2 linked regions of the Homo sapiens genome follow. The protein of the gene in region 2 interacts with the protein of the main gene of each other region in a pairwise test. Each region holds a gene or a part of one and is shown on either strand. Other genes may lie near its edges.

Region 1 (3,912 bases), about 96 Mb from region 2:
GACCGTGGCCCTGCGCCACCTTCCCCGCTCAAGGAGACCTCCTTTTCCATCGGGCTGCAAGTACTGTTTCCATTCCTCCTGGCAGGCTTTGGGACCGTGGCTGCTGGCATGGTGTTGGACATCGTGCAGGTAGGACCTGAGTAGGGCAGCTCTTGACTGTGAGCCCAGGGCCACCTTTGCCTGCTGGGAAACTTGGAACTTCCTCTCTACCTCCCTGTCAGAAGTGGCTGCTGCTTCCTAGAATACTGTTTTCCTTTGGATCATGTCCTCGGTTTCTTCTTGGTCTAGTTCCTTTCTACAGAAGCCTCAAGGAAACCGAGTAGCCCTGGGGAGGTGATCAGGGCAGTATTGCTAAATAGAAACAGAATTGGCTCCCGAGCTCAGGCTTGGGAGAGGAGAGATGGAACAGGGTCGTTGCTTGCCATCTCTCCCAAGCAGTCCTGCCGAGCCCAGCTCAGTAGGAGACATTTACAAGGGTCTCCTCTTTATGCCTTTTGTCCCCTGCATTTGGGGTTTCAAGGATACCCATAGTAGAAAGCTCAGTTTCAAGCCTCTCCTCCATCCCCCTACTGGGCAGGAATTTGTTCAGCTGCCAAGAGGGTCTCAAATTAAGTAGGAAGGCTCTTGAAGGCATTTTGTGTTGCTTATCTTCCTGTAACCTTGGCATAATCCCCTTGGGGGGTGGGGGTGGGCACTTGCTGTCTGATGCATGATTTGGAGATTTGGTGTAACAAGACCCAAATGTGCTAATTATCTGCTGTAAATGGGGACAAAATGTAACTAGGCCTGGGCAGAACTGTCTCTCCTCTTTGCTCCTCACCTGTCATTCTGAACCTGCCCTGGGCAAAGAGGGTTCTTTTTGAGGACATTGGGTAGAATGAAGGATGAGAGTCGGTGGGACATGGAATCTAAGAGCCAGAGATGTGCCATGTTAATTTATTGTGAGTCAGGACTTATGAAGAACCTCCAGGTCCAAGAGTTAAAGTTTTGTTTTTAGATAAAAGTTTTTTAGGCACAGTGTGGCACACCAAACTTTTTGAAGGTGCTGGGTTTACCTAAGTAATTCAGCAATGTGTATCAAATTCCTGCTGAATGCTGGCCTCTGTCCTAGGTACTCAGAGAAATATTAATACCAAGGCAGGAGGAGATCTGGCCTTTGCTTTTTGGGACCCCCAGTGTTCCCTGACTGTGATATCTCCCAGAAGGACACGAAGCTTAGCATCACCTTCCCTGTGCCAAGCCAACCCTACAGACCATAGTGATATAGAGTTCTGCTGGTAGGTCTCACCATGCCTGTGTCCTGGGAGACTGAAGGGGGTTGGTTCTTGATAGTGTGTGCACATGGAGAACTTTGACTTGAGCCCTTCAGGGGAACCCTGCACCTTTGGTTGCTCATGAGAGTGCTGTTTAAGTCATGCCAAAGTGCCTTGCACTGCCTCCCCTTTCCCCAAAACTGTTATCTTGAAGGTTGTTCCTACATGGAGGTTGGGAAGCCAGCCTGGAGCTTTGGGTTCCTCCTGCTAGGGGCTGCTCCTCCCCCTAGGGCCGGGACTGGGACAGTAGGAGGAGGAGAAAGAGACTAGGGTAACATTTTTCTTCACCTCTTCTATTCCTTTCCTGTGGCCTCAGTTCTCATTCTTGAAGTTGTTGCATTCTGGTTTGATACCTACAAAGGGTTGCAGAGCCAGGGTCCAGAGGTGAACTGAAGAGAGTTGTCTTATTTTCTGGATAATAGTAATGGTAGTGGGGAAGCATTTGGGGGGCTCTTCGGTAGGCCCATGAGGTAGGATCCATAATCATCTCCATTTTGTAGGTAGGGAACTTGTAGCTTAGAGGGATTAGGTAACTTGTCCCTGGTCATCTGACCCTAGAGCCCACACCACTAACCCCTGTGGCCTTCGCCATGGCCATGGTTCACCAGTTGGTTAAAAACTCGGAGAGGGGGCCGAGCTCAGTGGCTCATGCCTGTAATCCTAGCACTTTGGGAGGTCAAGACGGGCGGATCACCTGAGGTCAGGAGTTTGAGACCAGTCTGGCCAACACAGTGAAACCCCGTCTCTACTAAAAATACAAAAAATTAGCTGGGCATGGTGGCAGGCACCTGTAGTCCCAGCTACTTGGAAGCTGAGGCAAGAGAATCATTTGAGCCCGAGAAGTGGAGGCTGCAATGAGCCAAGATCGTGCCACTGCTCTCCAGCCTGGGTGACAGAGCGAGACTCCAACTCAAAAAAAAAAAAACTCTGGCTGGGCATGGTGGCTTATGCCTGTAATCCCAGCACTTTTGGAGGCTGAGGCAGGAGGATCGCTTGAAGCCAGGAGTTCAAGACCAGCCTGGGCAACAAAGTGAGACCTTGTCTCTACCAAAAAAAAAAAAAATAGTCAGGCATGGTGGCATTCTCGTATAATTCCAGCACTTTGAGAGGCTGAGATAGGAGTGATCACTTGAGCCCAGGAGTTTGAAGTCGCAATGAGCTATGATTGTACCACTGCACTCCAGCCTCAGCAACAGAGCCAAACGCTGTCTCAAAAAAAAAAAAAAAAAAAAAAAGACTCTACGAGGAGCCTATTTTCTTTGTCTTTCCTTGAAGAACTGGGTGGATTAGAATCTGGATTAATTAGCGTTATCTTCTGAAGTGAGCAAGAATAAAAGTTCTTAGATGGGGTAGGGAGGGACCCCCGCATACACACCACACCCCTACCCATCCCACACACTTAGATTCCAAAGTTTCTGATGTGTTGCCCCATCCCCACTCCAGGCCCATGAGCTGGAGACATTGAGAGGCCTGGGTAGGGAACCTTTGGAGCTGCTCTCAGTGTGGCACCTCAGCTCACCTCAGAGCTAGGGTCCACTTGGTGTGGATGACAATGACAGGTTTGTCCATGTCCTCCTCCCCCAGCCTTCCTGCTACAGCTGGGCTGGAGCAGGCCCTGCAGATGGCAACAGTGAGATGGCAGGAGGGGGTGAGTGCAGAGGGACCGAGACATGGGACCACAGGGAGATTGTTATTCCACATCCATGGGAGTAAAAGGGGGACTGACAATCTCAGATTCAGGAAGAGCGGGATGGTTTCTAAGGATTCACACCTATATTACCCCTTCATAAGCTAAGATGGACTTCAGTAAGAGAATCTGAAAGTGCCCCAAGACCATGGGGCCATCTGGAGAAGCTGGCTATGGAGTGTCCCCAGCATCTTGGAGCAACTGAGCAGGAGTCCATATTGGGCCTGGTTCAGATGTCTCCTTGGTCCAGGGCCCCCATCTTTCCTTGCTGCTGTAGAAAACTTGGTTTCTTTTTCACCAACGAGATGCAAAAAAAATAAAAATAAAAAGTTGAATTTTAATTTTAATTTAAAAGAAAAAGAAAACCCACTCTCTTCCTAGAAGGGTCATTTCTGCCTCCTCTTATCTGCCCTCCCGTAAATGTGCACAGCAGCATCTGCAGTGAAATAAGGGGCTGGTGCTGGCCCAAAGTAGGAAAAGGATAAATGGACCTCCATCTGCTCTAACTTCCCAACCATGGCTGAAAGTTCCTGCAGCATCTGGAAGGGAAGCAGGCTGGGGCCTGGTGTTGGCTTCTGAAGGGGGTTGGGATATGGGAGCCTCCTCACTGCAGGAGCCTTGTGCCCATCTGCCCAGTTTGGTCCTAGGCTGCTCCGGATGTCTCACTCCCTTTATCTGTCAGCCTTTGTGAGGGATGGGGTGACAGGAAGTAGTGTGCCCATCTGCACTTTAATTCCCAGCTAGGTTAAGACAGGTCCTTATTTTAACTCACTACTCACCTGCTAAGGATCTTGAACAAAGTAGATCCTGCTGTGTATACAGAAGTCTACAACGATGAAAGTGCATGGCAAGCGTGGCCTTGGGGAAGTAGAGTGGGAAGGAAGTATTCCTCCTGTGCCTGGCCTGCTCCTG
Region 2 (3,912 bases):
GCTTGCAGCGCCTGGCCTTGCAGATCTCCATGCTGGAGCCATTGGCCTCTCTCCAAATAATGGGCACCTCTCTGTTTTCAGGAGGTTTATTCCAGACAAATGAGAATTGTCTCCATGTTTAAAGATATCTGGGAAAGAAGACAGTAAAACCTCCCTCCAATGCCTAAATACCCTCCTCTCCTGAATTAAATGATGAAGACTGCAGTAGAGCCCTGTCTGCCCGCCTTCTTCACAGAGGTAGAGAAGAGTCACTCGAAGCCTCTGCATCATTACCCTTTACTTACTCAAAGTGGCCTCACCATTGTAATAGTGGAACTTCTCTAACTCTTCCTCATAGGAATTCGCTAATCTTTTGTCAGTTCTGTGGCCATCTGATTCCTCTTAGAAGTTTCTTTATTCCTCTTAGCTTCTGGTGCCCAGAACTGGATGTGATTAGGGTGTCACATTCTGGGAAGGGCAGCACAGTTGGAAATATTTTTACCCGTTGGCAGTTAGTCAGTGAATGGCTCCTTATAGGTTCCTTAAGAAAGCAGGGGCCGGGCATGGTGGCTCACAGCTGTAATCCCAGCAGTTTGGGAGGCCAAGCAGGAGAATGGCTTGAGCCCAGGAATTTGAGACTAGCAACATATAGGCAACATAGCAAGACCCTCCCCTACAGAAACTACAAACAAAAAATTAGCTGGGCATGGTGGTGCCTGCTAATAGTCCCAGTTACTCAGGAGGCTGATGGGGAGGAATCACTTGAGCCCAGGAGTTCAAGGCTGCAGTGAGCTATGATCATGCCACTGCACTCCAGGCTGGGCAACAGAACAAGACCCCCATCTCAAAAAAAAAAAAAAAAAAAAAAAGTAAAGAAAAAGAAAGTAGGTACTCAAAACTTGGGGGCAGTGAACGGTCAGTTATGGAGCCTTCTCTTCACCAGCACTCTCCTGAAAGGCACTCCTGAGCATCTACAGAAAGATAAAATTTAAGAGCATGTACTATGCCTAGCATGTACAGTGCCTACTATGCATGGTTCCAGGCACTATTATCTAGTAGTGAACAAAAGAGAAAAAAGGCCAAGCATGGTGGTTCATGCCTGTAATCCCAGCACTCTGGGAGGCTGAGGTGGGAGGATCACTTGAGCCCAGGAGTTTGAGACTAGCCAACTTTTTATTTAGCCAAGAAAAATTAGCCAGGTGTGGTGATGCACATCTGTGGTCCCAGCTACTCTGGGGGCTGATGTGGGAAGATCTCTTGAGCCCAGGAGGTCAAAGCTACATGATCACACCACTGGACACCAGCCTGGGTGACAGAGCGAGACCCTATCTCAAAAAAAGAAAAAGAATAACAAAATCTCTGTCCTCATGGGGCTCATACTCTAGAGCTGCACTATCCAAAACAGTAGCCCCTAGCCAAGCTTGATTATTTAAGTTTAAGTTAATCAGAATTAAATTAAATAAAAAATTCAAGCCGGGTGCAGTGTCTCAGACCTGTAATCCCAACACTTTGGGAAGCAAGGTGGGAGGATCACTTGAGGCCAGGAGTTCAAGACCAGCCTGGGTATCATAGCAAGACTCCATCTCTACCAAAAAAAAAAAGTAGTCGGGCATGGTGGTACATGCCTGTAGTCCCAGCTGCTGAAGTGTGTGGATCACTTGAGCCCAGGGGTTCAAGGCTGCAATGAGCTATGATCACGCCACTGCACTCCAGCCTGGATGACAGAGTGAGACTGGATCAAACAACAACAAAAAAGTTCAGGCCGGGTGTGGTGGCTCATGCCTGTAATCCCAGCACTTTAGGAGGCCAAGGCGGGCAAATCACTTGAGGTCAGGGGTTCGAGACCAGCCTGGCCAACATGGCAAAATGCCGTCTCTACTAAAAAAAAAAAAATTCAGTTCAGTCACGCTAGGCACATTTCAAGTGCCCAATAGCCTCATGTGACTAGCAGGTACTATCTTAGAGAGCACCGATTCTAAAACTTTTCCATTATTACCAAAAGTTCTGCTGTGTCTAAACGACGGTCCTGAGGTTCTGACAATCCTGAATCATGCTTTCGGATTCCTCAGAGGGCAAAATACACCCACAATAACTTTAGTATTTATTGTATTCTGATTCTTTTCAAGTCAGGGATCTTACACGATGATTTTTTATTTACCAAAATATATGTTTAAATCTGAACACTATACAGTCGGATGGTACCAGAGCAAAATGAGAACATCTGAGGGGAATCACAGGTTCACAGAACAGCAGAACAAAAGGGACCTCAAAGATTCTCACACCCAATCATCTCATGTCACAGAGGGGGACTGTGAAGCCCCAAAAGATTAAGTCACTTTCCCAAAGTCACATTTAGTTAATGTGAGAGCCAGGCTTAGAATTCACATCTCCTGATTCCCTGTCCAGTGCTCTTTCCATTTCATTTGCTCATTAACTCAACACTGATTGAGCATCTACCTTGTGCCAGGTGCTGGAGATATGAAGACGAATAACACCTATCTCCTGCTCTTGAGAATTCACATCAAGAAAGGAGCGTCATAGCAAAACAAACAAACAAAAAATAATAAAAACAAACACTGCATCCCAGAGTTATTGAGGCTAAAGAAGAGATCTCTACCATGTGCATTGAGGATTACAAGGAGGGAAGGAGTAGCTCTGTGCCTTGGGGTGCAGAAGCTCAGAAAGACACTTTCTCCCAACCCCCTCCATGTCTCCTAACCCTCCATCTTTCCACTCCAGATTTGCTTTCTTCCCTAACTTTGCCAAGTGACTGAGACACAGAGAAGAGAAGGAAAGAACTAAAATCACCCCTGTCACCAAGCACAAGGCTCTGAGATGAGCAAACTGGTTATAAAGAGCAGCCAAGGAGAGGTAGAGGACCTGAGACAAGGGGGAGTTCTAGCATTCTGGTGCCAACCAGCCTTTCTCCTCTTGGACCTCCATTGCTGGGACAGCGACGGTCATTTTCTGCCCTCCGCCTCCTCTTGCTTCTGCATCTCTTTTGCAACCTTAAACCTTTCCAGTTTAAGGATGAGGCTCCCCTTTGGCACTGACATGCTCGCTGGTGATAATCCTGTGACAGTCCTGAGGACACTAACATCACCAGTTAGCTCAGAGCACAAGGAAGACAAATTCTCTCCCCAGGTCCTACTCCCACGCTTATCTCATTGTTTTTTGTTTTGTTTAGGCGAGGTAACAGGCTCATGCCTGTAATCTCAGCACTTTTGGAGGCTGAGGTGGGAATATCACCTGAGCCCAGGAACTCAAAGCCAGCTGGGGCAGCATAGCAAGACCCGATTTTTACAAAAATTTTTTACAACTTAGCTAGGCATGGTGGCATGTGCCTTTGGTCCCAGATACTTGAAAGGCTGAGGTGGGAGGATTGCCTGAGCTTGGAAATTTAGGCTGCAGTGAGATGTGTTCGTACCACTGCACTCCAGCCTCAGCGATAGAGCCAGTCTCTATCTTAGAGCCTGTCTGAAAAAAAAAAAAGATTTGATATTTACTCACTCAAGGTTCCAGAGCTAGAAAGCAAGAAAGCAGAGGGGACTCAATTTAAACCGAAGCCTATCTGACCTCAAAAATCTGTCTCTATCTTCCTTTTTCTTTTGTTTTATTTTCCTTTTTTTTTTTTTTTTTTTTTTTTTGAGACAAGGTCTAGTTCTGTCACTCAGGCTGGAGTGCGCAGCTCATTGCAGCCTCGACCTCCTGGGCTCAATGATCCTCCAGCCTCAGCCTCCCAAGGAGCTGGGACCACAAGCATGTGTCATCACACCCAACTAATTTTATTTTTTAATAGAGACGCGACCTCCCCTTATTGCCCAGGCTTGTGTCAAACTCCTGGGCTCAAGCAATCCTCCCACCTCAGCCTCCCAAAGTGTGTCTTTTTCTTAAAAAGAAAATTTTTTTTAAGATACTTCTTTTCTTTTCTTT

Evidence for each region.
Region 1: the proteins of SYPL2 (region 2) and SLC41A1 interact in binary tests that used the Homo sapiens proteins (3 or more experiments, as listed by UniProt).

The regions. Positions count from the first base shown.
Region 1 is NC_000001.11:205,806,287-205,810,198, reverse strand, and holds part of SLC41A1 (solute carrier family 41 member 1), read left to right. Parts: coding exon 1-129; intron 130-3,912. UniProt on the Homo sapiens protein: Na(+)/Mg(2+) ion exchanger that acts as a predominant Mg(2+) efflux system at the plasma membrane.
Region 2 is NC_000001.11:109,469,542-109,473,453, reverse strand, and holds part of SYPL2 (synaptophysin-like protein 2), read right to left. Parts: intron 1-3,912.